7 separate regions of the Homo sapiens genome follow, and all the other regions are linked to region 2. Evidence: fine-mapped expression QTL. A gene starts in region 2. Each other region holds a variant in brackets. All regions are shown on one strand. Distances are between the middles of the regions. Region 1 has its middle 88 kb from the start of PTDSS1. Region 2 holds the start of SDC2 (syndecan 2). Region 3 overlaps CPQ (carboxypeptidase Q). Region 4 holds the start of CPQ (carboxypeptidase Q). Region 5 overlaps SDC2 (syndecan 2). Region 6 overlaps SDC2 (syndecan 2). Region 7 overlaps CPQ (carboxypeptidase Q).

What was found.
Region 1: its variant is fine-mapped to the expression of SDC2 in whole blood (TOPMed, PIP 0.92).
Region 3: its variant is fine-mapped to the expression of SDC2 in whole blood (TOPMed, PIP 0.97).
Region 4: its variant is fine-mapped to the expression of SDC2 in whole blood (TOPMed, PIP above 0.99).
Region 5: its variant is fine-mapped to the expression of SDC2 in whole blood (TOPMed, PIP above 0.99).
Region 6: its variant is fine-mapped to the expression of SDC2 in whole blood (TOPMed, PIP above 0.99).
Region 7: its variant is fine-mapped to the expression of SDC2 in whole blood (TOPMed, PIP 0.92).

The regions. Positions count from the first base shown.
Region 1 is chr8:96,347,275-96,351,797 of GRCh38, reverse strand. No RefSeq gene overlaps it. Among named protein-coding and RNA genes, the nearest start is that of PTDSS1, 88 kb to the right of the region's middle. The variant C/G (reference allele first, on the strand shown) is at 2,563.
Region 2 is chr8:96,491,249-96,495,771 of GRCh38, reverse strand. SDC2 (syndecan 2) reads right to left here and starts at 1,959. Exons shown (of 5, transcript NM_002998.4): 1 at 1,441-1,959. The coding sequence starts at 1,500.
Region 3 is chr8:96,758,239-96,762,761 of GRCh38, reverse strand. All of the region lies in intron 1 of CPQ (carboxypeptidase Q), which reads right to left. Among named protein-coding and RNA genes, the nearest start is that of CPQ, 120 kb to the right of the region's middle. The variant A/G (reference allele first, on the strand shown) is at 1,907.
Region 4 is chr8:96,642,860-96,647,382 of GRCh38, reverse strand. It overlaps CPQ (carboxypeptidase Q), which reads right to left and starts at 2,141. Exons shown (of 8, transcript NM_016134.4): 1 at 1,981-2,141. RefSeq lists a silencer at 1,717-2,266. The variant G/C (reference allele first, on the strand shown) is at 2,196.
Region 5 is chr8:96,529,219-96,533,741 of GRCh38, reverse strand. The region is part of intron 1 of SDC2 (syndecan 2); the gene reads right to left. Among named protein-coding and RNA genes, the nearest start is that of SDC2, 38 kb to the right of the region's middle. The variant T/C (reference allele first, on the strand shown) is at 2,318.
Region 6 is chr8:96,522,854-96,527,376 of GRCh38, reverse strand. All of the region lies in intron 1 of SDC2 (syndecan 2), which reads right to left. Among named protein-coding and RNA genes, the nearest start is that of SDC2, 31 kb to the right of the region's middle. The variant G/A (reference allele first, on the strand shown) is at 2,824.
Region 7 is chr8:96,907,879-96,912,401 of GRCh38, reverse strand. All of the region lies in intron 4 of CPQ (carboxypeptidase Q), which reads right to left. Among named protein-coding and RNA genes, the nearest start is that of CPQ, 260 kb to the right of the region's middle. The variant C/A (reference allele first, on the strand shown) is at 2,579.

The DNA of each region.
Region 1 (4,523 bases), 140 kb after region 2:
AACATAGAGCCAACAGTTACAATACTGTATTGTATAATTAAAAATTTCCTCAGAAGGTAGATCTTATGTTAAGTACTCTTGCCACAAAAGAAAAAAATTTAATTAAAATAAATAAATACATAAAGGAGGCAGAAGGCAACTTTTGGAGGTGATGGATAAGTTTATGGCTTTGATTGTGGTGATGGTTTCTTGAGTGTATTCTTATCCCCATTAAATACATACAACTTTTCGTATATCAGTCATACTTCAATACAGTGGTTTAAAAAATAAGGTATACAATTCAGTGGTTTTTACTATATTCACAGATATGTGTAACCATTACCACAGTCAATTTTAGAACATTTTTATCAGTTCAGAAAGGAACTCTTGTACTTTTTAGCTATCACTCCACCTCCACTGCCCCCTCCCTGTAGTCCTAGGCAACCACTAATCTACTTTTTTTTTTTTTTTTTTTTTGAGATAGGGTCTTGCTCTGTCACCCAGGCAGGAGTGCAGGAGGACAATCATGACTCACTGCAACCTCAATCTCCTAGGCTCAAGCCATCCTCCTGCCTCAGTCTCCTCAGTGGCTGAGACTTCAGGTGCATGCCACTATGCTGGGCTAATTTTTTTGGTTGTTTTTTTTTTTTTTTTTTGTAGAGACGGGGTCTTGCTATGTTGCCCAGGCTGGTAGTGAACTTCTGAGCTCAAGCAATCTTCCTGCCTCAGTCTCCCATTAGTACTGCCCACCACTAATCCACTTACTGTCTCTACAGGTTTTCCTCTTCTGGAGTTTCATATGAATGTAATCATATAACATGTGGCCTTTTGTGACTGACTTCTTTCAAGTGGCATAGTGTTTTTAAGGTTCATCCACATTGTGGCATGTCAGTACCTTATTCCTTTTTATGGACAAACAATATTTCATTGTATGGATGTACTACAATTTGTTTATATTTGTTTACCTATTCATTAACTGATGGACACTTGGGTTGCTTCCACCTTTTGGCTGTTGTGAATAATGCCGCTGAGGTTAATAATAATGAGCCTTGAGGATGTTACGATGAGAAAAATAAGTTAGTCACACAAAAAAGATAAGTGTGATTCTACTCATACGAGGTATCTAAAGTGGTTAAATTCATAGAAACAGAAAATAGAATGACAGTTGCTGGGAACGAGGAGGGGTGGCAAGTGGGGAGTTGTTTAATGGGTAAGAGTTTAGTTTCACAAGTTTTTTTTTTTTTTTTGAGATGGAGTCTCACTCTGTCGCCAAGGCTGAAGTGCAATGGTACCGTGTCAGCTCACTGCAACCTCCGTATCCTGAGTTCAAGCAATTCTCCTGCCTCAGCCTCCTGAGTAGCTGGGATTACAGGCGCCCACCACCACCCCTGGCTAGTTTTTAAAAATATTTTTAGTAGAGACGGGGTTTCACCATGTTGGTCAGGCTGGTCTCGAACTCCTGACCTCAGGTGATCCGCCCACCTCAGCCTCCCAAAGTGCTGGGATTACAGGTGTTAGCCACCACACCCAGCCTAGTTTCACAAGTTTTACATGATGAATGAGTTCTGAAGCTCTGTTGTACAACAATATGAATATATTTAACACTACTGAACTGTATACATAAAAATGATTAAGACAGTAAAATTTATGTTATGTGTTTTTTACCATAATTACAAACTTTACAAAGCATCTGTGCTTTATTCTCCCTTACTTTCTTGTCGGCTATCTTGCAGTTCAGGCCATGGTCCATGCTGGGCTAGGCCTAACCAAGGTCAGGACCTATCTGGAGGGGCTCACAGGGCCCCCGAGGGAATGCTCATTTGGACACTTCCCCTGTTCTGCAGAGCACAACAAGAGGGTGATGGCAGGGCCAATTCTCCAGTGGCCACAGCTGGAGGCCCCCTCGGTAGCCAGCAGGGGCAGACTGCACACCAGGTACTCCCCATGAGGATGCCTCAGACCAGCTTGGGCCTTGGCATAGATTTTCTGGCTAGGCTAAAGTCATGCCCACTTCAGTCTCTCCATTTTTGCTCATTTCCAATTGGTTCCTCTTTGTGCCAATCATATACGCTGCTAGGAATGGGAGAATAGACTTAAGAAGGCTTTGGGGTATAAACAAGAACACTGTTTAGGAGAAAATGTTTTGAAACAAGTAGGTGCAGGAAGAACCCATTTGTTCCTATGCCTCTTACTGTGTAGTCAGAAAACCCCTGTATAAGTATTAAATAGATTTACATTCACTCTGGTAGCAACAACAAAAATAATTCTATCTGCCATCTACTGTATACTTACTGTTTTTCCAAGGACTTAAAACAAACTTATTTCATTTCATCTGATAAAGCTAATATTACTATCTCCATTTCATAGATGAGGACATAGAGGCCCAGACAGAAACTTGCCCAAGAAGTAGAGCCAAGATTTGAATACATGCCTGTATGAGTCCAAAGGAGTCATACAGTATGAGTTCAAATATATGCCTGTATGAGTCATTATGAGTAATGACTCACAGTCATCACTCTACGCAGACCTCTCTTATTAGTCTATTAACATTTATTAAGTGCCCACTTTGGACAAGCTCCTGAA[C/G]GAGGCTGTAATGTGAACACTAATAGAGGAGAGAGAAAAACCCATACATGGGGAATGGCCAAGGAATAACTTTAAGTAAGTACATATAAGTATCACTGTACTATACATGAATGGGGAGGGTGAATATATGAGTTAACTACATACAGAAGAGAACAATAAATAGTCTGGCTGTATCTTTGAATCACAGGATTTTAGAGTTGAAAGGGATCTGGGGGGTCATCTAATCCCACCTCTCACCCCAAACAGAGATCTCTTCTACAAGTATCTGTGGAAGTTCCAGTGTCAACTTAAAGGCAGTGAGCCAGTTCTTTTGATTTCCAGGTTTTTGGTTATTATAAAGTTCCTGCCTTTCATCACCAAATCTGTCTCCCTTTGGGGAATTCTCCTATTGGTCCCAATTTTCCCCACAAATCTATAGCAAATAGTCACCCTTCTCATTGCCGTGACTGCCATTCTTCACATGGATAAAGGGAAGACAAGCATGTGTTGACCACTTACTCTGCTCCAAACACATTCCAATAGTGCCACTCAATAGGGATGATGGTTTCTCATCTAAGGACTCTGAAGAGTCATTAGAGACATTAAGAGTCATTAGAGATATTAAGAAACTTGTCTAAGTTACACAGTTGGAAGTACTGGAGCAGAGATTTGAACACAAACTCACCTCTTTTCTACTACACTACACTGCCTCTCAAAGCCAGTTGTCATCACCATGCTCCTCATCTTCTCTTATAGACCATCTAAATATCCCTGGTTTCTACAGACTTTCCTTCTCAGCATACAAGTTCTCTAGACCTCTCCTGATGTTGGTTATTCTCTGAACAGGCTCCAGTTTGTCAATGTCCCTCTTGAAATGCACCATAAGACCAGAATTCAATACCCAGTGTGGCCAGACCATCCTGCCTAGCTTGCTTGCCCTGCACGCCATTTGCATGCCCAGGATGGCTTCGCTGACTTAAGAAGCATAGTAGACCTGTCACACATTTGGCTTGGGCTGATCTTGATGTAGCTGCAACCTGGGTCTTTTTCATATGAGCTGGTTTCAAGTCACATTTCATCCATCCCTTACTTACACCATTGCTTCTAATAAGTCTCAATGGGATCCTGTTGGATTCATTTATTGGTTTTGAGAGAGTATTTCAATTTGTTAAACAGCATATTCGCTGCTTCTCTGGCTTTAGGCTATCTGAACATTTTAAAAGTAAGTCTTCAATGTTGTGATACAAGTCACTGATAAGAATGTTGAACATGCCAGGACCAAGAGCAGAGCCTTGAGACATCCACTGGACACCTCCAACAGGGTGGCAATTCATCGATTAATTAATGCTCTTTCAGTACAGTTGTCTACCCAGCTGTGATTCCAGTGAGTTATTTTTAACTCCACATTTCATTTCTCTACCTCCTCACAGTTTATGTAATAAAAAGCTTTGCAAAACACCTGCTGGAATTCATCCAAAACATCCTCTTTTTTTTCCGAGTGTGTTCTGTAGAATGCTTGATCAGTGGGATGGTATTAAATAGGTTTTTTGGTGCAGGACTTCTCAGAACCTTTAATGTGCTAATGTGTCCTGTGAATCTTCAAGAGAAACTACAGTAGCACACTGTGTTTCTCAAAGTTGAGGTAGGTCCTTTATTTTATTTTATTTTTGCTTAGGTGGGATTTGTACTCTGCTCTTTGCTCATTTGTAGTATTCCCTTGATCTACCAATCTGATAACTACGTGTAAAAGCAATACAACATTAGCTCTGCATGGCTTGTTCTTAGTGAACCTCTGCTAATGCCCAGTGATCAATGCTTGCTTCTATAAAGATGGTCACAGACCACCCTTTAATAATCTGCTCTAGAATTTTACTGTGGATTAAGACCACGCTTGTTGACCTGCAGTTTTCAAAATCTATTTTTTCTCTTCTCTCTCCTGATACAATACATTCTTGTTTCTCGGGGTTTAACCCACCACAACT
Region 2 (4,523 bases):
CACACAGAGGCTCCCACACTGATTAAAAATGTCCATCTGCCGCTCGATGCCAAAGAGGTTTCCCAGTCCTAAATTAGCCTCAGCACAAAAAAGGGGGGGAGGGAGACTCAAACTCATAAAACTACCTAAAAGACCTTAAGATGATATAATTTGTCTTTGAAAAGACCATTCAATTAATTAGAAATTGACACGTTATTAAATGGCAAAGGGAGAGGACGTGGGGAACCAGAAGGGCCAGAAACAGCCGCACTCCCTGAGACCCCAGAGGGCACTGAGGCTGCAGACGAAATCTGGGGTGCTCAAGCTTCCACCTGGCCCGACAGAGCTCCTGGCGCCCAGGTGGAGGCAGCTGCGGACGAGAGGAGGCCAAGGAGGCAGTTCCCTTTAGAGGGCGCTCATTGGGCGACGTGGGGAAACAAGCTCCAGCCCCCGAAGCGCGACCAAAAGGAGAAATCAAGTTCCCACCGCCAGGGCGGGGGAGGGAAGCTGGGTGCCGGCAGGCGCTCCGCCGGAGACGAGACTCCTCCCGGCCCCAGAAGCGCCCCGCCAGGGCCAGAGAGGGCGAGCGTGGCGGGAGGGAAGCCTCTGTCCCCCAGCGGCCAGGCGACCCGAAGCCGAGCGCCGTGTCACACGTACCCCGCCTCGCCCTGCTTGCGGCACTCCCGTGTAACTCCTATGAAAATGTCCTCCCGTCCCTGACGCCCCGCGGTGCAACCTCCACCCCTCAACGAGGAGGGGGTCGCCGCAGGACTGGGAATCCAGTGGCCGGCGTCCCAGCATTTTCGGACGCGTTCCGTGCCTCCCCCAGTATCCCCTTGAGGGATCGCCTACTGCGATTCCACGTAGTGTCGGTTACCTCGCCCTAGCCGCAGGGAGCATCAAACAAAAGAACTTTTGCAAACTTTTCTCTCTGGACACTCGCGGGTCTCTTAAATCTGGCCCCCATCTCCCCAGAACTTGCATGCAGTCAAACAGGAAAGCTGGCGCGGGGGGGATGGTGTGCGGAGGAAGGGACCCCGAAGTTTCCAGGTCATCCCTGGTCTCGAGGAGCGCGCGGAGTGGAGCCGTTCCCTCGCGGGCCCGACCCAGGCTCCCCCCTCCTGCCACCCTTTCCCCTCCGTCCTTCCCAGACCACGCAGCAAGACCCGCCGAGGGCGAAGAAGTTGGGAGTGACTTCAGGGGCCTCTGCGGCTAGACCAAACCGCAATTCTCGGTGCCCCCATTCCCGCGGACCGCGGGGTAACGCCAGCGAGCAGCGCTTTTCTGAGGAAGGGAAGAGGGGGAAAGGGTGACCGGACGAGCGCATTTGTCCCAGCGGATCTCCGGTGTATACTTGGGGACTGGGGGTTCCCCAGGTGGCGCTCCCCTATTCCCTGCGGGCTCCTCTCGTAGCTTCAAACACCCTAAACGGCGCGCGCATCCTCCGCCTGGCCCACTCACCGACTCCGCCGACACGCAGGCCACCAAGCCCAAGGTGAGCAGGATCCACGCGCGCCGCATATTCCCCAGGGACCGGCTGCTCCCAGCCGCTGCTTGCAACCAGGGCAAAACGAAGCCTCCTGCCCAGCGCTCGGCGCAGCCCGCGCACACGAATCCGGAGCAGAGTACCGCAGCGATTGCGGCTCAGGCTCGGGGACTCGGGCTCGGGGCTCGGGGGCGCTCGCTTCCTCCTCCTGCGCCTGCTCCCGCCGCCCGCAGCTGCGCCCCGGGAACGCGGCGCCCTCTCACTTGTTGGTTTCTGCACTCCCGACACGGAGTTGGTGCTCCGGGAAGGCTGCTCTCTGAAGCTCTTCTTGCTCTGCTGTGGTTTTGCTCCTCCGCGGACTCCTTTCCCGTGCCGAGGTTCAGTTTCTGGTTTTAAGGAATAAATTCGCTGGCTTGAAAGGGAGCTACGGCAGAAGTTTAGGGGCAGAGCGGCGGGAGCGCGCGATCCGCGCGGCTGGAGCTCCGGGGGTATCTGGAGAGCAGCGCGTCCAAGCGGGGCCACTGGCTCCGCGGCTGCGCCCCTCCTCCTCCCGCGCCGCGCCTCCCTCCCCGGGTCCTCCTCCTTCTCCTCCTCTTCTTTTCCTCTGGCTCCCTCCCTCCTGAGCCTGCTTCTCCGGGCTCCCCTGGGCGACTGGGGAGAGGAGGCGGCAGTGTGACTCCCAGATAAACCCGGGAGAAATTCCTACAGGATTACACGCCGATTGGCAGCTCCGAGGACCAGTGGGCGCCGCGGCTCCGCGCTGTGGCTGCGCCGGCTCTGCTCACCGGCAAGCCAGGGCTCCTGCGTTTTCTCAGTCCTTTTCTTCCTTTCTCTCCCCACTTTTCCTCTCTCCTCTATGCTCTTTTCTTCCCCGTTGTCTTTTCTCTTTCCCTTCTTCACTTTCCCTTTTCTAGAGAACAATTAGTGAAGAAACGAGAGACGTATGTAGCTTTTCTGCCTTGAGAATTCGACCAGTAGAAAGAAACTGCTTTGTGAGTTGAGGGAAAAAAAAAGTGTAAGATGCTTTCAAGCAATGTGAAGTGTTCATAAATCGCCAGTTCATGAAAATTGCATTTTAAAAGAGAAGATAATTAATGTAATAAATATATAGTGAGAGTGTTTCCCATTCTCCCAAATCCTTCCGCACCCCCAAAAAAGGGACATGGAGGAAGGATCCTGTAAACCCAAAGTGCAACAGTTTGAAAGCTCCTAACTTCATTAAGGGCTTAAATACCATTTCTCCCTCACACACAGTTTATGCCACTAAGGCTTTTTATAGGCTCCATTTTAGCAGATAGGTGTTAACGTTTGGAAGCTACAAATAGGGTAATTTGATGAGAAGTTGGATAGAGACCCTGAATAATAACAGATTTAAGATAACTTCAAAGAAAAGAGGGATAAAGTAATTCTTAGTTTGAAGAAAATAATGAACATGTATTTCCTAAATGGAAGTAGCTGACATGAAATATTTTGTTACAATGTCTGTGGCATATTATAGAACATGGCAAATGCGTATTCCCTTCCAGTTTCTTTTTCTTACTGTCACAAATTTTACACACAAATCCCTTGCAGTTCGTGCCATCATTTTTCTCTCTGACTTATAGAGTAAATGAATTATGACGCCATTCTGCTCCTGGAATGCCCACTACAGGAAACCAGAGACTTTTCTGTCTGTTCACCATTGTATTCTCATTCCTGGTACATAAAGACACATGATAAATATTATCTTGAATAAATTTTGCTCTAAAGCTCAATTTATACCGTATAAGAGTTGTGAGCCTTTAAAATACACCAATGTAGATATATAGATATGAGGCCATGGTAATTTTTCAACTCAGTATTAGAATAAAATACAGTCATACCCTCAGTGAGAATTAAATGTCTTAGTAACCTATTACTGTAATAAATCTCAAAGAAAGAAATTTAACTGGAGAATTACAACTCAAACTTGGAGACACTTATTCCTTTGGTTTTGTGTGCCAGCTACCAAACCTACAAATGCTCATGAGCAAGTCTAAGGCATTGGCCAACAAAAAGGTAATATGGAGAAATAGAAGAGTAGGCAAAGGAGAAAGAAGAAAAAGAGCAATAGGCCAGAAGTTGTAACATCAGATGATGCTTCTGATTCCACAGACACTGTAGCTGGCATCTGTGCCAATGTGGGCTCCACTTAGCTTTTGAAAGAATGAACCACAGCCTTTTTTTTTTTTTTTTTTTTTTTTGAGACAGGGTCTCATTCTTGCCCAGGCTGGAGTGCAGTGGCCTGCACTGTAGCCTCTACCTCTCAGGCTCAAGCAGTCCTCCCACCTCAGCTTACCAAGTAGCTGGGACTACAGGCACAGGCCACCACACCAGCTAATTTTTGTGTTTTTTATAGAGACAGGGTTTTCCATTGTTGCCCAGGCTGGTCTCAAACTCTTGGGCTCAAGTGATCTGCCTGCCTCAGCCTCCCAAAGTCCTGGGATTAGACACGTGAGCCACCAGCCTAGTGCCCTTATTTTTAAGATGGAGTCTGTGGGTTGAAGAGGTTCATGAGATGGGGAGACTTCTTAAAAAGGCCTCCAAAGGAAAAGCAGCAATGCAAAATACATGCAAAGAGCCATAAAATACCAGCTCTGTCCTCATAAGAGGCCTCGTCTACTCGCCAGCCTTCAGGCAAGGCCACACCTCCATTGTCCCCAACAGTTAAGTATTCATCAAATAAATTGGAATTCCAGTAAAACAGGAAGTGCACTCCACTGATTTGCTGGTTCTCACAGTTATTGCTGTTTACTGGGGCACCCATGTAACAAGAAGCGTGGTGAATGCTCTCTGATTCAGCTTGGGCAGACAGTGATAAAAAATGAATAAGTGGATACACGTGTTGAAGGGATATTATCTGTTTGCTGCCCTGAAGGCACACCCCAAGGCTCTTGGTGTTGATGAGATGCTCAGTGACTTGTTTCTTTAAAGATGATAAATACTCCATTGAGAGTATATATAATAAGGGAATTGGTACCATTTTGAGTGACACAATATTAAGGAGATGAAAACAAATATTCAAGATCTTGTGTTCAGA
Region 3 (4,523 bases), 270 kb before region 2:
CACTAAAACTACGGTTCATTGAGGGAAAAATTAATAAATTGAACTGAAAGCACTTATAAAGCCTTCTTTCTCCCCCGTAAAACAATCTCAGATGCCCTAGATATAAAACAGACATAAGCAGAGCTTCTTGGGAAGTGGGGCAGAGAGCCTGGATACTATTTCCTTAGTCCCTCCATCACTGTCCCTCTGTAGCCCCTAAGATATCTCTACAGAATGTGCCACCCCAAAGAATAAAATGTGGGAGCCATTGAAATTTATTAACATAATGTTTGGATCTGCCCAAAATAGTAACCAGTAACTTTTATTGAGAGGCTACTATGTGTTACATAATATGATATATGCTTTCTTATATTATTTTCTCTTTTAATCCCATGAGGTAGGTATTATTTACATTCACACAGGAAGAAATTAAGGCTCTCACAGGTGGTCCATGTCATAACTTCAATCTGGACCCAGTTTTGACATCCAAATCCATGCTCTTTAGACTTCCAATGTTCAGGGACACCTCATACACAGTGCCTTCATTCAAACATAAAAGATAAGAACATGAACTTTCTGTGGACATAAACCACTTGTTCAAAATAATTGTCTATTCTTAAAATATGAAACTTTTATTTCCCTAGGAAACTAAATTCCAGCTAAATATGTAATAACCATCCAGGATATACTTCCTATAAAGCCACAGCAGCACGTGATGGTATAATAGCATAGCTATTGAGCAAATATTCTTGGCAAGCTCCCATGCCAGACACACATACTCCTTCCCTGTTACAGAGCAAGTGGCTCACAGAGATCTGTGGCTGATGAATTCTATTAATTTGAAGGCCAAAGCAAGCTAGTTATATTTGCTATGTTCAGAAGGGAGACAGAATGGCAAAATGGTTAGGAAGGTCACACAAATAGTAAAGAGACTGAGCCCTGATTAGACCCAAGGTTTGACGCTATTAGCGGAGGTAACAGTTATAATACTATGTCAACTTTAAAAGTCCTAAGGACTTAATATCACATTATCTCATTTAATTCCCACAACAATCCTGTGAACCAGGTATTGTGAATAAAGCATTAAAAGATGAGAAAGAGGCTTAGAGATGATAAATGATGTGCTCAAGGTCACACAGAAAATCAGGGACAGAACCTTGATTGGTACCCAGATCTGTGACTGCAGAGCCAGATCTTTGAACTACCACTCTAGTCCACCTCTCTCAGTAAGAAGAATAACAAAGAAAACAGGCAAGCTCTTCAGCCTCCCCTTTACAATCGCCTACTCACATTACGTGGAGTAGGGCAATCAATCCACCAGTCACCTTGTAGACCCTACAGAGGAGGCTCCCCATTAGAGAAATCAATCCAGGACCACTGGGAGAGGAACACTAAGGGCGCTTAGAGCATAGGTGCAGAAAGCCCTGCTCTTGAAGGCAGCAAAGTCACATCTACAAGACAGCTTCTCTGTCTGGCAGTTTATCTGCATCTGATGGTCATCACAGAGTTCAGGCTAGCTCGTGCGTATCAGGAGTTGATGTGCGGCTTTCTTCCCACAAGCCAAAAGCTTAACCAGCACAGCCGTTTGTGCTCAAAACTACCTTGGATCAGGAAGGCCTTAGAAGGAACAAGAAAATGCTTGTCACCCACCACTTCCACATTTTGACAATACTGCATTAAAGGTTTAGAAGGAAGGTTTTTACCTGAAAGTCATTAACAGATGCTTATTCCCTATGAAGTTTCAGGCAAAATGCTCAGCCACACCACAGTTTAATCAACACACATCCTAACTGAGACTTTTACAGCTTTAAAGCTGTAAAATCTGGAAGGTTTTGCCTCTCTCTGACATAATTACAAGTTCCATATTTTTGCCTAAGGCTAAAATGTAAATCATTTCCTGGTACACCACAACTTCCTAGCACTGACT[A/G]TATAAGGCAAGGCTGCATAGATTTTGAAATTAAAAACATCATTTTCCTAAATATGCGTGTCATTATGATGTTTACCAATGTGTTTCTGCTGGTTTTTAAGTCCCAGTTCCTACGTATTGCAGTTGAAGGCTGCTGGCATTGTGATATAAGCTAGGCAATGTAGCCTAAAACTTGCCACAGTTTTTCTTCTCTTTGGGTTCTCTTATGAGTTCCTTTATAGGGCTCCAGAGTACTGATTATAATGCATTATAACCACCAGGGTCTAAATTCATCTCTGTTCCTTATAATCCTCCTTAAGCCCTTTAGAAATACTGCTCCTTCTCATTAGCCCTTAAAACATCAACATTAGCCCTTAAAACATCACCACTGAGCCCACTCCTACTTAGGCATAGAGGAGAAAACATGGGCTATAAGGTCTGACAGACCTGACTAAAAATCCTGACTCTTCCACTTACAATCTTGCATACGTTTCTTTACCTCTCTGAACCTGTGTTTCCTCCTCCATAAAGTGGAAATGATAATACCAGACTTACAAGGTTCCTGTGATATGGGTTTTAATGGCCACTGGGCATATAGTAAGCATTCAGTAAATATTAGTCCCTTCACTTTCTCTGCCTTTCTGATCCATACAGCTCCCAATTTTACCTCTGGCAATATGCCCCAGAGCCATAGGAGTCACAAGGAGAGCTCGTAATCACAGCTCAGGGAATCATGAGAACTGGAACAGCCTTTATGAGCTATGCTATGTTGAATATCTTCATAGCTCAGTCCAGTAAAACCATGAGGGACCCACGTGGCTAGGGCTGAGGCCTGAAATCAGGGAAACCTGGGTTCCAACTGCAGTATAGTCCTAGGTATACTAGGACTAGCTGTGTGACTTGGACCAAGTTACGTAACCTCTCTAAATTGCAGTTCCCCTCTATGTAACGGGGGGAATAATAACAATTCCTACTTTGCAGGGTTATGAGGAGTATTAAATGAGAAAATATATACAGAGAGCCTAATATAGTAGCTGGCATGATGCAAATACTCAGTGGTAGTGATCATTTGCTATTACTAGCAGTGATAGGGAGCATGCCCTTGCCATACTAGCTGAGGACATGGCTCCTAGTCAGCATTCCACTCCCTTACTCACTGCATGACTTTGGACAAGTCGCTTAAATGTTCTGCACCTCAGTCTCCTCATCTATAAAACAAAAATGTTAAGAGAATCTCAACATTCTTCATGGTGTTGTTGGGAGTATCAAATAAAATAATGGCATAAAAGCACTCTGTGAGAGATACAGCATAGAAATTTTAGATGGTATTATTACAATATAGATGTAATGGAAATGCTAATGGATGCTAATCATAAGGTCCTTAAGTTCACCAAAAAATAAGTTGGTCTGAATAGGGCTTAATTGAGTACAAAAATATATATAATAATCATCCCAGAAGCATCCATTAGCCAGGAAATCACACTTCGAAGAAGGGTTTTAATGCTTCATACATATTTATGTGGTCTATTTCTGATTTTGGAATTCAACAGCCCATTTTCTTAATACCAAAATCTCTTCTTTACTGGAGGTTTGGGGGAAAGGGAAAGAAGGAAACAAGAAAACAATTTGAGCCTCCTGAAAGCAGATGAAAGGTAGGGCAGGGATGGAGCAAGGTGAGCAGGAGAACAAACCCATCCTGCAGAGCCCCTGGGGCAGCACACTTATTGGCATGGTCCCAGGAGACAAGACAGGTGGCATATTCTTTCCCTCACCAAAAGGCAAGGGAGCAAGAAGATGAGAACTCCATAGAAGACGTCTGAGTTCCAAGCTCTCCGTAGAAAATATTACTCGAACTTTGTCCTTTTCCAGGGTTTACCTTTGACGGAAAAAACAGGAGTAGGAGCTCACTTCTATCCCCATCATTAAGCTGATCAGCTTATCAGTAGGTATGTATGAAACATGTATTATACGGAGATATAAAGAGTGAGACTTGGCTCCACCTTCAAGAAATTGGCTCACAATCTGGAGGCAATAGGAAGACTGGTGAAGGACTTTGGACATAAAAAGACTGGGAGGGAAGCTGAGATGAATTAAGTGGAAGACAATTTAATTCAACTGCCTAGGATAAATTAAAAACACAAAAATGAACAGAAAACAAAAAAGAAGAAGAACTAAAGAAAAATCAATAGGGCTACTTGAGATGCCTAGCTTATCAAAACAGACTAATGGTTGGACTTCTTAACATGGCAGCAGGCAGCAGGCTATTATGTATGATAGGGCCTCCCCCATCTCCCATTATGAAAAAATCATGCACGCATATGTACATGCACACATGCACACACCTTCATTGACTGGCAAAGTACAGAAAGCCAAAGATCAGAATTACTATGAGTATAAAAATTCCATTTAATGTATCATCAGTAATAGGTTGGCAGGTGTAGTTTTAGACCATACATCACATATTTTATTTTTACAACCACATAAAATGGGTGCTTCCTTCCATTCTGGTCTCAAAAAAATATAAGAAAAGATGTTGATTACCCATAGAGTTTACACCATGTTTCAGAAGACAGGGGCTACAGTGGTGAGAAATATAGTGAGCAGCAATCAGTCTTATGGGAACTTTCTTTACTGCAGT
Region 4 (4,523 bases), 150 kb before region 2:
CCCATAAATATCAGCTTTGTAACATTCCATGCCTGTATGACACATGACCTCATTGGGAAAACAGTGTGAGAAAGTTGGCCCTTTTCACCAAGCAACATGTGTATTCCACTTCTCCTTATAAACTTGAATTCACTGAAGTAGGTAACATTAATTTCATTTTACTTAACACATTTGGAACTTTGTGTTTGTTAAATGTAGCATGCAAAAATATTTAAATATGTATGTATAATGACTTTTGAAGTGCCTTTAAAAAATCTCCAAGGTCCTTCCAGCTCCAAAATGTGATCTATGATAACTAATCTCAAATGCATGCGAAGAAATAGTGATGCAGTTCCCCAGATATACTGGGAATATATGGCATTGTCAGACTGGGTTGCACTGGAAAAAAGTCAGACCCAGGACCAGGAGCCTGTGACAATGTAGAAGAAAATCTTACCCTCCTTTCTCCCCACCAGCCTAGGGTTTATTACACTTATCTTGAGCTCCCAGGCTTTCTTGTTGCAGATGTGGAGAAGAAAGGAAATGAGCTGTAAACAGCAAAGAAGAGAGCAGAGACAAAATGCTATGGGAGGTGAAGTAAGCAGAACTCCATGAAATCATCTGTAATTTCACCTTCTAACCCTGATACAAAAGAATCCCAGAGGTTTAACTCAGGCAGGGTTCCTAGCTAAACATCTTCATTTTGGAGATTAAGAAATTAAAACCTAAAGAGATCAAGTGGCAAGTCCAAGGTCATCCAGCTCTTCTGGAACCTGGACCTGGCAAGTAAGAACGGCTGCAGTGACCAACTGTATTAAAGCTATGTGCTAAGCCTATTTGTTTACAAACAGATAAGCGTCTTTCTGGGCCTTATGTAGCCTTCTTCAGTCACCTGCAAATCAGCCAGCACCTGTCTCAGGAAAACAGACAAGATTCTTAACAACTCTGAATTCAAAAGAAAAGCCTGGTTTTACAAACAAGTCAGAGTCATATGGTTCTGCCTTCAGAGTCACCCTTATCTTTAAGAAATACATGAAATAATATTATAGTGACAATGATTCTTTAAACGTCCAAAGTAGAAGTGAACAAAACACAAGCAAGAAAAAACCTAGGCATATTTTGTTTTAAGCAAACACATATAGCCAAGTCCAACAAAAATGGAAATACCAGGGGGCGTTTCCAGAGACCATTTGAACAGCATAGAACTCTTTTTAAGTGGTCCCAATCAGAATGCCTCCATTTGCAAAAGTGCGACATTCACACAACTTTTTGGAAAGCTATCAAAAAACAGGAGTTGTAAGCCTGCGTCTCCACTGCTTCCACTTCATACATCTTTATTTTCACTCATGCACTGATTGATTCAGCTGTATCTCGTATGCACTCATTTATTCACTTACTCATTTGTTAATTCACTCAGTTCTACGGCATAGGTACTCATTCAATTACTTATTGAGTAGCTCTGAGTCCTAAGTCAGATGGGACTTTGCCCTCATGGAACTTCGATTCTAGGAGAGTCCAGTAGCAGAAACTAGACGCATCAAAAGCGAAAGTACACGGTAAAATGCGAAAGGAACCCCAAAAGAACTGCATAAGGCATATTGGAGGCTCAGGGGGACCAGGATTGTTTGCAGATGGGGGATGAAGGGGGCGGCTTGGGGCTGAGCCCTGGAGCTGAGGGGAAGTGAAACCGTGTTGGGAAGGACGGCTGAGGGCCGTGCTCGCTGCTGTCCCGCAGCACCCTCCACCACCCCCACGTCACAGCTTCCCCATTTCTAGGCTCGGTGACTCCACTGTCACCGAAGGGGCAGCCACAGGCTCCCAACCCGCCGCTCCCCAGCCAGGTCCTCCCGTCACGCCCCCGAATGAGCGATGCTGGAAGTCCGTCCCCCTCTGCCCCCGCCCCTGGCCTGCTCCAGCCTCAGCCCGCCCGACCCCCGCGGGTAGGAGCCAAGGCCTCGGCCCAGCCGCCCGCGGGCACTGCCAGTTCGGCTGCAAACACACCTGATAGGGCGGCTCTGACGGCGGCGACGGAGGCGGCTCCCAGGACTAAGCTCGCGGCCTAGCCTTACGGTGGCGGCGGCCACACCCCTGACTGGGCTGGGGCCCTCCGCGCCGCCCCGTGACTGCAGCCCTGCTTGCCGGCCAGGCCGCGGGGCCGAGAGGCGGGGCAAAGACCTGACTCGGGAAGCCGGGGCGGGCGCCGGGTTCGGGCTGGG[G/C]GCCACCTCCGGAACGCCTGGGGGGTTCTCACTCGCCCTCCAAGGGCGACCTCAGGGCCACAGATCGGCCGGAAGGCTTCTCAGCTTCTGGGCTGTGGCTCCTGTTAGAAAATTGAGTGTCGCCCTGGGTCCCGAGCCCCTAGGCCTGACTCCTTCGTGCAGGGGCGTCGCCTTCAGACTGGGTGGTGCGCAGGCCAGGGCCGCGTGCTTTTCAGAAGCGCAGCCTCAGGCGAGGCGGGCGGCAGGGGCCTGAGAAGGCTCATGGCTTGGCAGAAGGGTCCTGTGCTTCAGTGGGTGCCCGTGCAGGTGGAGAAGGACGGGGCTGCGAAGCTGAAAGGAAAACGTGAAAGGTTTTTGTGTGTCTCTGAGCCTGAGTAAAGGCCATGCTTTCTGAGCTGTCAAACGCCTCCCAAAGGGAAGAGATTATTAAACCGTTTTCCCACCCTGCCAGGTGTAGGATTGTTAGGCGGTGATGATGGAAGGCAGAGATGACCCGAACTGAGAGATCAGAAAAAGCGTTTTCTCTTTCGTTTGTGCCTGAATTATATGAGGGTGCCCAAGAAGAAAGGAGACTCATCTGATTACCCGGTGTGGCTTATCTCAACAAGTCACACGCATTCTGGTCACAGAGTATGTGCTCAGTGTTTTCAATGCTTTATGTTTTGATAAGTGCAAATTCCTTTGTTTAACGAAACTCTTATCAAATACAAACAGTTATCTTTGTGAAACACTGAGCAGTTCCAGTCTCTCCTCTTAACTAAAAAAACCAAACAGAACTTTTAATTAGAAAAGAAAAGAAAGAATAAGCACATGCCTACTGGGAAAAAAAAAATACCATAAAATGTGCAAAGTCCACTCACCTTCGGTTAACAGTCCCTCTAAACCTTACTAGTCCTGTTGCCCACTGAAACAAGTGTGAACTCTGAGGCATTGGAGGGTCCACATAAACATGGCCCTGGCCCACCTTTCCCGAATCATCTCTCGGATGCCATATCTAACCCCACTGAATTACTTTTTTCTCAAACTATCAAGGGTAAAAGACAAGTTTTTATTATTTCCAATCTGACATGGACCATTATTTCTGTAAAATACAAATCAAAACCTGCTAGCAAATAAGAAAAGAGACAAAAACTACAAGCCCAGTTTTTATTACAAGTGTACAATGAGTATGCCAAAAAGTATAAAATTAGTTTTTCAATTATTGGTTGTTGTTGTTGTTTTTATTTCTAAATGCTTACTCACAATTTCTATACTTACCTGTTCATGGAGCAGTAAAAAGCTGTTCACTGACTGGCGGTGGTTGGATTACCGTTTAAGTGGCACTGACTTGCTGTTCTTTAATTATGTCAAATGCTTTTCAACTTCTGGGCCTTTTCTCATGTTTAATGTGAACGAAGTTCTTTCCCACTCAAGTTTCAACTCGTAATAACAATAAAAGCTTCACATTTATTGAGTGCCTTGTGCTAAGATTTTTGATGCATTAACTGTGAATTCTTATTTGTCCTATGAGCTACCTATTATTATCATTATTATTTCCCCCCACTGTACAGATAAGGAGATGGAGGATTAGAGAGGTCAAGTCACAAAACCAGTGAGGTACAAAGTCAGCATTAAACTGAGCTGGCCTGATTCTGGAGCCCAAGCAATCAACCAACATGCTGGGCCCCTCTCTGTGAAACCTCCCCCATTTGCTTTCAAGTTGAAATTAATCACTCTTGCTTACACCTCTACTCTAACATTTTTTCCCGTTGGTTTTCATTCATGTCAGCTTCCCACGCTAGGCTTTAAGCTTCTGAGTACAGTGAATTTGTCTGCTCACACTAATCACAGGAAGCAGAGCTCATTCGCATCTTTGCATTACCACTATCTTTTATGCTTACTTCATGATATGTTTTAATTATTTATTCTTGTCAGCATCCTCTACTAAACCATACAATGTTCAGAGTTATCTTACCAAAGATGCTTTTATTTATTTAATTGAATAAGCATTTCTATAGCATGTATAATGAGCCAGGTACTATTCCAAGAATTTTAAAACCTCGCAAATAGACCTATAGATATTATTTTATCCCTCTTTAAACTGTGAGGAAACTAAGGCATAGAGAGGTTGCAGTAAGTTGCAGGACCAGAATTCCAAACCAAGCAACCTGCCTGGCTCCAGAATCTATTTCTGAGCCACCATGCTATGTTGATTTTCCACAATACCATGTGTTCTTCCTACTTAGAACACTTCACTGCAGGGAGATCAATCCATAATGGCCAATTAGAAGCCCCTGCCCGCAGCACTCAGGGAGGAATGAGAAGGGGCAAGTGAATTCAGTACCTTCA
Region 5 (4,523 bases), 38 kb before region 2:
ACCTTTATGTCTAGCTAAGGGATTGCAGATACACCAATCAGCACTCTGTGTCTAGCTCAAGGTTTGTAAATGCCCCAATCAGCACTCTGTGTCTAGCTCAAGGTTTGTAAATGCCCCAATCAGCACTCTGTGTCTAGCTCAGAGTCTGTGAATGCACCAATCAGCACTCTGTGTCTAGCTAATCTGGTGGGGACTTGGAGAACCTTTACGTCTAGCTAAGAGATTGTAAATACACCAATCAGCACCCTGTGTCTAGCTCAAGGTTTGCAAATGCACCAATCAGTGCTCTGTGTCTAGCTAATCTAGTGAGGACATAGAGAATTTTTGTGTCTAGCTCAGGGATTGTAAACGCACCAATCAGCACCCTGTCAAAACAGACCAATCAGCTCTCTATAAAACAGACCAATCAGCTTTCTGTAAAATGGACCAATCAACAGGATGTGGGTGGGGCCAGATAAGAGAATAAAAGCAAGCTGCCCAAGCCAGCAGTGGGAACCTGCTCGGGTCCCCCTTCCACACTGTGGAAGCTTTGTTCTTTTGCTCTTTGCAGTAAATCTTGCTACTGCTCACTCTTTGGGTCCACACCACCTTTATGAGCTGTAACACTCACCACGAAGGTCTGCAGCTTCACTCCTGAAGCCAGCGAGACCAAGCACCCACCAGAAGGAAAAAACTCCAAACACATCTAAACATCAGAAGGAACAAACTCTGGACACGCTGCCTTTAAGAACTACAACATTCACCGCAAGGGTCTGCGGCTTCATTCTTGAAGTTGGTGAGACCAAGAACCCACCAATTCTGGATACAGTATGTACTTAAGAAAAAAAATCCCTTTAGCAAAGATGAACTCAGAAAAATGTGGGCCCATTTAGGGCACAGGGCCTATGCTGCTGGCACTTTGCTAGTCTCTTACACCAGCTTACAGCACCTCTAGAAGATGACTCCAACCTAGAAGACCCATCAGAGAAGGTGAATGCATAGCCCGGATGTACTCAGCCATTAAGTGCGGGCTAGGGGCTGCACTCAGCCTGTCTGAGTTCACAGCTCTTGCTCTTTCCCTCACAGTGTGTTTTTTTGGGGGGATGGGGGTGGCAGTGATAACTGAAAAAGTGTCATGCTGTCTGGGTACTCATTACATGCATTCTTAGTCTAATGTCTAAAGTTGGAATCTTTACCCCTCCCTTCTGTTCCACAACACTTCTGCAAAAGAATGACTGGAATTTAACGTTAACTAAGGGAAAAAATATTTTACCCATGTCCCTGGAGGTAGATTTTCTTTCTTTTTTTTCCCAAACAAAGCCCTACCAAAAAAAAAAAAAAAAAAAAAAACGCCTCAATAAGCAGAGAGACTCAGGGGCATCTGGTAATAATAATCCTATTCCTTAGTGCCCCAAGAACTCAGTTAGGCAGCGACTATTTTTATAAAACCTGAGACTGACAAAGCAGGGTGGGTCTTGTTTATACCTGGAGGCCCCCTTACTGCTCCCTGTTCAATGACAACTCATGGCAGCTATTACTAATAATGGTGATGAAAACGGCCCACATTCACTGTACTTATTTATCATATTTATTTCTGTGTGCACTGGGTGTTGTTCAAGACTTTGCACTAACTAATGCATTTAATCCATATAACAATCCTAGCAGGTAGGCAGCCTGTCCTTCACTTCACAGATGAAAAAACAGAGGCAAAAAAAGAGATTATAGAACTTCTCCAAGGTCAACCAGCTGTTAATGGAAGGTGTCGCTAGTCTACAGCTACCATCTTGAGGTCATGGTGGAACAAGTCACTCTGATGTTACAAACCTAGCGCCATAAACTGTCCTGAATTGGCACATAAATTTTGTGGTTCAGACAAAGAACTGAAGATGAGATGCCATGTTCCCATGTACATCTTGGTTGACACACACATAAATATATGTAAGGCTGAACCAAGCCCTCATTACACTAGAATCAGTGAATCATCATGGGGTTGAAGGAGAATTTAGAGATTACCAGAACAGATTTATAAAACCACGCCAAGTAACCACGGTTTCCTAATATTCTTAAAGGGTTTAAATAGTTGATGGCAAAGAAATCTAAGGATGGAGGTAGTGGTGAGTCATTAAAATGTTTACAATTTTAATTTTCTTTTCCATCTTACTTTTCTCTCTTTTATTTTTTAAAGTGAGGCAACTGCCAGCATACAAGTTTCATAGCCTGAGTACATTCTTTGTGTAAATAAAATTTTTTAAATCATTTTTACATATGTTAGACTATTTTTAGCATCGTAATCTTAATTTTTAACTTGAATTTGGGGTTTAAAAGAGCCTTTTATTCT[T/C]TAGGTTGTCCAAAAGAGATATATCTATAATTTACTAATATTAATCATACTTCTCCATATACAATATGGCAGAGGTAAACCTTTTGGAAAAACGTGCCCTATAAAAGTTCTAATGTACTGTAAGAACAACATAATGAGGCATGCAATGTAAAAGAGAAGTTATATTAAACTCCAGTTTCTGAAATGCTCAAATTCTATTTATCATAATGTCACTAATTCACTGTGTAACCTTGAACAATCTACTTTACCTCTCTGGGTCTCGATATGTAAATGCAGATGTGTCTCATCTGTAAAATGGCAGGGTTGGGTTAGATCACAGTTCCCAACTGGAATGCCCCAGGACAGCTGCGCCAAGGTTCTGATGCCCATCAGCCCTCAGGGGAGCTGGACACAGCCTAGGCTGGAGTCCTCAGATCCACTACCTCCAGCCAAGAGCAGTCATTTATTTCCCCAGGGTGTGCTGTGCACCTTTTCAATGTGTGCCATGATGTGAAAATGGTTGGGAAACACTGGATTAGATGACCCTGAGGTCCATCTTAGCTCCGCCATTCTGTCAGTCTTCCCGAGATTTTAAGGCTTCCTGAGATACTGCCCATGGCCAACTGTTATGTGGTTCTATAAACTGCAATGTAGGGCACAGTGCTTTATAAACAATATAAAACAATATTTCTTATTATCTTCATTTGTTATCTATGCTCAGAAAGTTAAGGTACACTGTAAGGTCCTAAAATGTTATATAAAGAAAGTAACTTATATTTTAGCAGGTTTTTTTGTTTCGTTTTGTTTTGTTTTAGACAGAGTTTTACTCTGTCTCCCAGGCCAGAGTGCAATGGTACGATCACAGCTCACTGCAACCTCTGCCTCCTGGGTTCCAGAAATTCTCCTGCCTCAGCCTCCCAAGTAGCTGGGATTACAGGCACCCGCTAACACGTCCAGCTAATTTTTATATTTTTAGTAGAGACGGGGTTTCACCATGTTGGCCAGGCTGATCTCGAACTCCTGATCTCAGGTGATGCACCTGCCTGGGCCTCCCAAAGTGCTGGGATTACAGGCGTGAGCCACCGCGCCCAGCCTAGCACCATTTTAATACTAACAAGGTGGTGGTATATTCTGATTTTTATAAGTAATTATGTTATGGCATATTAACATAGCTATTAATCATTCCAAAATTCTGCTGAAAGGTTATAATGACAATTAGTTTTCTAATTCCCCACATGCACTCCACCCCATGATTTAGACAAAACAATCACAATCAGAGAATTAAAATGTTAGGAGTCAATGAAAAGTAACCCCTTTAGGAAGTCAGAGAAAACATCATTTAAGCACCTTTAATGTATATAGTGTTTATCTCAAAGTAAAGCAAAACCAAAGGGCAGAGAAAGTCTACTTCCCCCCGCCCCTGCCACTAAATCTGGTTTAAACTAATAGGTTGGAAAGTTTGAAGCACATCATTCCCAGAAAGATGTAAATAAGCAGAATAAAGCTGGGAGAGGGAAGGCGGTAATGCCTGAGGAACTAGATGGGCTGGCATATGAGGGACCAGTTAAAAATGGAATCTCTGTGGCTCAGCTAAGTGGGCACCGGAACTTCTAACCATATACACACCAGGGATTGAGAAGAACAAAGAAGGAAAGGAATTATCAGCAATTCAGGGGTCACAGGGAAGGGGAAAAATAAGGGAAGAAAGCACTGAAGGAGGGAGATGGAGAGGAAGACCTTTGGGGTCAGCTGCCCCAAGTAAGAAGGCTACTCACTCACTCTACAAACAGGCCTTCTGCTCAAAGCTTCTTCCTCACACCTGAAACCAGCCTTGAAAGTAAGCACTGAGCAAGAAACCTTGGAATGAAAATATCCCAGGATATTTCCATAATGTGAAATGGGTCCATGTTTGCCGTTTTATTTTTGTTAGATTCTTAACTCTGACAGCCATAGCCGTCACTCGTACTCATGGAGTTTTTAAATGTAAAAATGGGTACAGGTTGGGATTTGTTTTAAATAACTTTTCTTATTTAAATTTAACAAATTCTTAACAGTAAATTTGAATGAGGCGGAATATTATAAATAAGCAAATAAAAATTACCTGTAAGTCAATCACCAGAGATAATTACTAATAACATTTTGATGTGTTTTCTTCCATTCATTTTTTAACATACCTATTGAATATTGACTGGGAAGGACGAATGGTTCACTGTGATGTCCAAAATTA
Region 6 (4,523 bases), 32 kb before region 2:
GGATTAGGAGTCTCCTATGATGTCTGTCTTACAAGAGCAGTGATAAGGGCAGGGGTGATAGAACAAAGAATGATTCAAGTGGGATTTATGTTATTGCAGTGTTTCCCCTATAGCAAAATAGGGTGCATTCAAACAGTCCCAAGGCAGAAATAATGAAGCTCCCAAACCTGTCCCTAAGCACGGTCTCTCTTCCCACCACGTCAATAGGCAGAACGTGCCTGCCCTCTTCCCCCTGTGGAGTGCAGTATTTACTAAGCACCTACTATGGATAGGTCAGGCACCATGCTAGCTGCTGAAATAAATCCTGGATGGGTCAATGCCAAAAATTAGCAGGAGACATGGAGAATGAAGAATATGACTCTGACATCCAAAAAGAGAGCCAAGTATTGGGAACAAGAGTCACCCAGACATTGGGAACAGACTGTTGTACAGAGCTACCACCTCCCTAGAGGCTACTTACCTGTCTGCTCCAAACCAGTGGCCAGCCTCCGTAACTCCCCTGCAGGTCCGAGCCTCCCCTGCACCAGAAAACAGTACCACTGGCCTTGTTCTACCAATGGATCGTCAGGGGAAAATCAGGAGCCCTGGCCACAGCTACACAGGGGTCAACACACAATCCAAGTTTTAGTTCCCTGACTTAACCCTTCAACGCTTGGTCTTTGAGGAGTACACCAAGTATTTATGAAGGCCCTTAAAAACTGTCCAAAAAAAAAAACCAAAGGCCTCTTTTCACTTTTACTAGCTTGATTCTTTAATTTTCACCCAATTCCTTCCTCCTCAACAGTGGTTTCCATAGTTCTCTGGGTGCAACCTGCGTTGGCCTTCCTGCAATCTGGAAAAGATCTTCTGTCTCCCTGCCTCCTTGAAAATAGGCAGACATTTGATCCACTTTTTTAAACTTCAAGGAGGGAGAGAAGAAGTTTCTGTAACTATAAAATATTTGGTCCCTCCACTTACTGGAAATATGCCACATAACAAGAAACATGAAACAAACAATCGTATAACAACTGGGTGGTTTTTGCAACCGCTTTAAGGAGATCAGCTTGGTCCTTTTTCCTATGTAAAAGTATTTGTGATGCTTCATTACAACAAAACTTCAAGTATTAGCTTTATAGAGGCCTATTTAAATTCAGAATCACAAAAAATCAGTACATATTCATAGAATTCTAACTTCCTTATGCCCATAACAAACATAGGTGCAAAGCCACTTTGGGGAGGCCCACAGGACCGAAATATCAGGAAAAGAACCACAAGGCTAAAACATACCTGGCCCTGCACCATGCCTGGCCCGCACATCCAAAAGCCATGACTAACTCTACCATTTGACGGTTAAACTTGAAGCCGTATGCTTAGCTTTGATAAGCCTCCATTCAAGGTCTCTGGGACTGACTTTGTTCATTTTTGAAACAGGTCAATGATGCCTACCCCACAAGGTTCCTGTGCGGCCCCACCCTGACAATGTGTGGAAAGTACTCTGTAAATAATGTCGTCCCAGACCCTTTTCCGGAGGCTTTCATTATCTTAGTTTTCTTCCTGAAACCGCCCCTTTCAACTACATGAATTTATGGTCTTATTCTGATTTTATATGTGGAGAAACTGAGACCCAAGCAGTATTTTTTCCAGGAAAAGAAAACTCCAACAAATTAAGAGATGCCCTCGGAGATCAATAAAGACTTGGGAATGCAGTTTGCCAGTAAGGTAACATCTTGGACAAGTCCTTTAACCTTTCCGAGCACCAGTCTGAGTTCAACTCACCAGCCTGGAGGGTAGACAAGCTGAAGAAGGTTTTGTCACCAGAGAGCTCTAAAGGAGATGGCAAACACTGGAGGAATTGGACCTCATATAAAGCAGCAAGGGCAAGAACCTTCTCCATGCCCCCAAGCAACGCACAAAGTAAGCCCAGGCAGGATGGGGTGCAGCCTCACTCTAATGGGAAGGGGGCTCTGATAAGGAACTTGTCCAGTGACCTCAGCATGGCACTCCAGTGCCACTGGAAAACAAGGCCTGCAGGTGGAAGTGAGCACAGGTGGGAGGCAGCTGTTAAAAGAGGAGCAGAAAGGAGACTACAGCAGCACCAAATGGGGTGGCTTCCCAAGGCCAAGCACAGAAGCTTCTCTAGGACAGCCAGGATCAAGACAGTGCCAGTTCCTGCCCTAAGTGATGTCACACATCAACCGGAAGCCTCATCACAGAGTGGGAACGGACAGCCTTGAACATTTCAAGAACACTTGGGCACAGGCCGAAATCACACCTGAGGTTTGCATGCAGAAGAGAGGGAGAGCAGGGCTTCCAATCATTCCTCTGGAATGAGCTGAAAGTACAGACTACGATTTTACATTATTGTGACCCAATTATTCCAGTATCTTCATAGCTCATATGGAGATCCATGTAACCCGACAAATAATGGCCAAAGTCTTGTCTCACTCAAACTGGTTCCACAAAAAACTGCAACTGATAAACCCTCAAACCCCACATCTTCCCAAGATTGAGCAGTAAACCACACAAAAATATAAATAGGAACCACCCACTAAAGTGCACAAATGATACTATATTAGGTCTCATTGAACAGCCCAATGAAGCCTGCAGTATTTATTAGGTGGAACCACAGCAGTGCTCTGACTTGTATTGGAAAGGAGAAAAAAGGAGGAGGAATGATTTCTAAATATGACTTCAGCATGTTGATAATAAGCTTTCCGGCACTGGTTCATTACGCCAGCCACCCTGCAATCATTAACCCCAGGTAGCAGTGGGGGAGCTAGGACAAAGAAACCCACTGCTTGCCCAAGGAGATTTCCTCATGCTGCCTTCAACAACAACTTTTAG[G/A]AAGTCATAACTCCCCCTTCTGAAACCAGAGGAGTTGATACCCTAAACTGGAATATATAACTGAAATTAGTTCTGACCGGTCTTAATTAAATCTTTGTAGCCAGTTGTCAGTGTGCTTGAGATTTTTCAAAATCTCTCTCTCACATGCTCAACAGATGTGGGTGGTAATCAAAGCCAAGCTGATCGGAGCTGCACAGACAGCGAGCAGCAGCTCCCCCAAACGAAAGGTCAGCCATGATAATGACATCCCCAGAGTGATGTATGTGCACGTTAAGAAGTTAAATCTCATGAAAAGAATGTCCAATAAAGCCATCAATTTTATTTTAGGTTCATCTGGCTGCAATTTCTGCCTACAGTCATCTCACTCCAGGAAAAGTCAGCACCGTGCAGGCACCTGGATTCACTTCGGGGTCTCTGGTATATGAACTATGACATTCCACACATAGTTTCCCAACGCAAGTACTGAAATATCTGTGCCCTACTTCTTAGCTCACTGTCTGTAAAACATTCCTTGCCCTTTGATGTGAAAGAAAAATACTCCACTTTACAACATTATCCTGGACTGGACTTCTTTTTTGAAAGAAGCCTAAAACAACACCACCATTGTGGCCACCCTGAGTGTCTGTGGCAACAACCAGAGAAGAAATAATCTTAAAGTTACCAACACGTTGAGCAACTTTACACCTACCTAAATCCTACTCCCCTGTATGATATTTTAAGGGAAAAGAAATCATTAGCAGAATTTCCCACAATTATCTTTGAAAAAAAATCCGCGTCTTTTTTTGGATGGATTCTTGTACCAAATACTTAAGCATTCCTCTGTCTTTAAAGCACCAGGGTAATCTGTTATTAAATGCACGTTTAAACCAACGTTTTATAACCTTGCTGCTGTTTTCAATGAGTCTCCGCCTCTTCCTACCAGGCATTTTGGGCTATAATAGCAGTCCCACAGCCACCTCCTACTGAATAATTATAATAGTGGGCCAATTAAACTAATCACCTTTCCACATATTTTTATCCGGCTTACAGATGTAAATCTCCCCCAGAATGCCGAGAATGAAAGGTTCCTCCCCAATAGCACCTAGGACTCCAAGAGTTACCCCTGGCAGAGATCCCATCCATTAGGGGCAACCTTAATGCTCAACCAAAACTAGTAAGTAACACATTCAAATATGCGATATTCATATATATTCACCACACACTCATCTTTCCTCTTCCAAGAAATCTAAAGGATTCATGAACTACTTCCACAGTACAAAAGTTTAACTTCGTGGTTTAGCTTAAGCAGCAAAACACCACCAAATCCTCTAAAAAGCAATTACCAAGAATGACAGTGCTGAACAGTGCGGGATTTTAGATGCTCAGCAATCCACTGTATGCATTTTTTGAAGGAAAAAAGATTTTAAAGAAAGATTTCAAATTCAGAGGTTTATCACTGTTGCATGAACCATTTACTATGGAGCAACTAACTGAATTAATAACTCCTCGGAGAAATTTTTCTTGATGACTCACACAGAATCTTCTGGCTCTGAAAGGGAGGATACGTTTCCATCCAAACGCCAAGTAACAAGCAGTGAAAAGGAAAAATTCCAACCCTAGGCAAAAGCAGCAGGTGGGAAATACACTCATTTGTATAAAGCTAATCCAGAAATAGCCATTTCCCCTTTCTAGATAAAGCCACAACCTGAGGAATGTTACTT
Region 7 (4,523 bases), 420 kb before region 2:
TTGTATTTGGCACATAGAGGATATATTCACATTCGCATACAAGACAATAGAAAGAATGGCTTTCTTACCACCTTGCTCACAGTGAAAAGACAGAACATGAAAGTAACCTGAAGTGAAAACCTACTAATGTTATAAGACTTGACTTCTAAAGTAAGGTATAAAACTTTCAAAATAACATTTCTAATCTCTTTCAATAAAACAAATGCATTTCATATGTTAAAATAATCCTGAATGACCTTTGTCCAGCTAAAGCTTCCTAATAAGAGAAAAACATCACAAATGAATCATTCATCTGGTTCTGGGGGGTCAGAAAGGCAAAACATTGTCCTGTAATTAAGCACTTTGCATGCGGTAGCTCATCCGATCCTCACAGCACCAGCTAATGGGTGGGCACCGTTATCATCACTTTACAGATGGGGAAAGGGAGGCTCTGAGAACTTACTTGACATCACACAGTCAAGCTGCACAGCCAGAACTCGACCAAAGGTCTGGCCGATACTACAGCCTGTGCCCTTACCTTATGAACGATGCTGCTTCTGGGCTGCTTTATAAAACCTGGCTTCAGTAAAATGCCCACAGAAATGGCAGAAATAATAGGGAAATCAGACTAAATCAGGTTACATGGGAAAACCTGAGAATGTCAATATTTACATTCTTTAAATTTGCATGGTTTTCTATACATGGTCAGTAGTAGGGTTTCTGAGATTAAAAGATTTAGTTTTGTTGCCAGGAAGGCCTGATTTTCAGGAAGCTTTATAGAGTGGGCCCTGATGGCTCAGGACCGCATGACAAGAGGAGCATGGGCATTATACAAGAGAAACAGGATGTAAGTAAAACTCAGTGTGATGTCATTATCACCAGGAATCATTGAATCACCCTCTAAGAAACAGACATAACATATGGCCTAGAAGCTGGGAAAGTGCAAAGGGGACTTCTTATTTGGATGAGGGCATTGGCATGAAAAGGCAAGTGCAAGGCCCAAAGACTCTTTTCACACCTGCCACTGTGCTCTCAGACCCCTGGGTGAGAATATGCACCAGCCTGACCCTTCCTGGACTAAACATAAACTTGGCAGGAACAAATGATCAAATGATCCCTTCATTGATGAGGTGCATTTTTGAAGTAGCAAATAAGTCATTTGCATTTTGGAGCAAGGGCTTCTTGTGGTTGATGTCTTATATGTTTTGTTTTGTTTTGTAACTACTTTCGGTGCAAACCTGCTCTCTCCTGCTCCACCTCTTTACTTACCCAGGGGAACCTTCTGGTGGGTAAAAAGCACGTGGATCGCTAAAATATTAATATAATTCAAGAAAATGGTTTTGGTCTTATAGTATTCACATCATAAAAAGTCCTAACTACAACTATTAAATTATAGATAATAATATCGATTTCTTTTTACTGCATCTTTCAGTCCTCTCCTACATGTACTGGTGTAACAGTAAGAGTCCATCTAGTATAGAGTGAAGCCCATATATGGAAAGTCTTAAAAACCTGGTTCAAGTCCTGACTCAGCCTTCTGTGTGACTTCAACAAGATACTTGACCTTTCAGAATTTCCAACTTAAAATAAGAGGAAGGATAAGATTATAACACTACTTCAGCCGGGCGCGGTGGCTCACGCCTGTAATCCCAGCACTTTGGGAGGCCAAGGCAGGCAGATCATGAGGTCAGGAGATCAAGACCATCCTGGCTAACACGGTGAAACCCCGTCTCTACTAAATATACAAAAAATTAGCCAGGCGTGGTGGCAGGCCCCTGTAGTCCCAGCTACTCAGGAGGCTGAGGCAGGAGAATGGCATGAACCCAGGAGGCGGAGCTTGCAGTGAGCTGACATCACACCACTGTACTCCAGCCTGGGCGACAGAGTGAGACTCCGTCTCAAAGAGAGAGAGAAAAAAAAGATTATAACACTATTTCACCTACTTCATGTTAAATGGGAATATACATTTTAAAAGGTACTTTACAGATTTAAAAAGTATCATACACATGATAACCATTGTGGTTATTCATTGTGCAAAAGTACATATCCTTGTACAATGGTGACAAGGATGGAGAAAGGTAGCAAAGGGTCTAGATATGACATAGTAAGCAAAAGCCTTGAAATAGAGTTTTAAAACTACTTCTACTTCAGGTCCACCCTGAACTAGATGTATCATATTGGGCAAGGCATTTAACCTCTCTGGACCAATATCTCTTCATCTATCATAAATGTGAATGGAAAGAAGGGGAAAAAAACCCCACAGACCGGCCACACAATGGCTAGGATTTACTTGTTCCCTCTCATTTAATCCAAACATAGGCTTCATAAGAAGCATCATGTCTCCTGTCATGGATAAAGAGAACTGACACTAAAAACTCAGTGAAGAGGACTCAAAGTCCATGGTGGTGGCTTCAGAATCAAACCTGTTCTGCTGACTCCAAATCCCGTGCTCAACCTGGTCGAGCACTACACAAAGGAAAGGGCAGTCACTACAGCTTTGATCAAGGTGATTTATAAGGGTTTCTTTTAGCACTAAAATTTCATGAGTCTGAAATTTGATTAGTTTTTCCACTTAATGAAAAATAAAAGCCTAAGTAAT[C/A]TGGGTTAAACATGTCTTCAGCTTTTATATCACCTCCCTGTATAAATGTTCCCATATATTCACAGACAGGCAGGCTGGCTACCAGAGTTTCTTAGATGTCCACTCCCAGCTCTCCTCTGGGGGATGACATGACTCATGTCATTGGGCTATTATAACTCATCTGTTTTCACAAAAACAGAGGCCAATAACAGCAGGACAGTCACACCACTGGTTTCCAATACTGTGAGAAAGAGCTGCCCACACATCCCCAGCTCCATGGACAGAAAATAAACACAGCTCTCCCTCTCATTAAAAGGAAATTGCTGAATTTATAGCATGACATTCTCATGGTAAGTATACTGAAGAGAGGGAAAAGAAAACCACTGAAAAAGTCTCCTCTCTGACCAATGCCTGTAACAGAAGAAAAATATTAGAGGAAGGCTGCCTTGTGTTAAGTAGAAAGCCTCTAACTCCATTTTATTTCCACCGTTACTGATGTAATTGTGAATTCCTGCTGCATTTATAATTAAGAAAGAAACAGATGGTAACGCTTAGCATGAAGCAATAAGGAGTGGCCATTAAAACAATCTAGAATGCCAGCGGTTGCATATGATATCAGAGGTTTAGTTTACCATAACAAAGTTTTATATCCATGGGAAAAGAGAAGAGAAATTAAGGTCCTTTCTCTCCCCCAAGATCCATTCACATCACAGCTGCCCCTTCATTGAAGGCACATTGCACATCACAGGCAGATTCCAACTTGTTTCATTGCTGGATACAAAACAGGTCATATCTTGGTTTTATTATAAATTGCCATCACAAGTGGCAAAACAAGAAATCCAAGATGGAACACTGACCAAGCTTTAGAAATACAGTTGGTGAGACACTAGAGAAACACAAGAATCACAAAAATCACACTTGGGTGATGGGGCAGGCTGAGGGTAGAGGGAAAAATTCCAGAATCCTATGGGAATGTGGCTGAAAGCCCAGATCTCTTAGAGAATATAAGGGTCTATGAAATCATGATACAAAAGGAAAATAAAACACCTCTTCCCCAGAATATATGGTGTGTGTGTGTGTGTGTGTGTGTGTGTGTGCGCATGTGTATAAAACTGAAAAGAGAAATAGCTGCATAATTTTTCCAGTAAGGCAAACTTCAATGACAATGCCAACTAGCTATTTAAAGAGTAACCTATCTCCCATTCTCCCACTATACACATGAATGTTTTTGTCTTTGGTAATCAGCTTCCTAAGCAATGTCCCAACCCTCAAATGTGCCTTCAGATTTTTCTCTGAGGTAATTTCATCTCATTGTAGTTCATGCCACAGTTTCATAGGGATCCAGTTCCCATGGCGGGGAGGTCGCTCTCTAAATCCATGAACCTGTCCAAGCAGCAGCTTTCACTGTTATCAATCTGCTTTTGTCCTTAACAGTCTCTGTCACATGCCAACCTCCAGTCTACATCACTAATCTCTCTTGCAAGATGCATTGCAGGAGAGTGGCTTCACCTTTAGAACATCCCAAGGCAGCTAATTATCAGACCTTTCTGTTATGAATAGTACTGCACATCACAGAATAATGAGGAGCAAACCTTAAGAATTCTGAAATATATTGTCAATCTTTTCTCTTTCTGTCTCTCTCTTCTCTCTCTCTTCTCCCTCTCTCCTCTCTCTCTCGTCTCTCTCTCCTCACACACACAGACACACACACACACACACACACACACACACACACACGTTGCAGTGGGGGAGAAATCCAATAAAGAGGCAGTATAGAATAGAATGAAGGGACAGGTGGAGCCTTGGGAACCATCAGTAAAAATGTTAAAAACCTGTGAACTCATTTTCTGCCTGGATGATCCTTAAGAAAATGTTCTTAATGTTCAGAGCCTCCAATTATATGACAAAAGTCACATTTGAGATTCATTATGTCACAACCATCAGAAAAGCAACTAGAAGACTATTC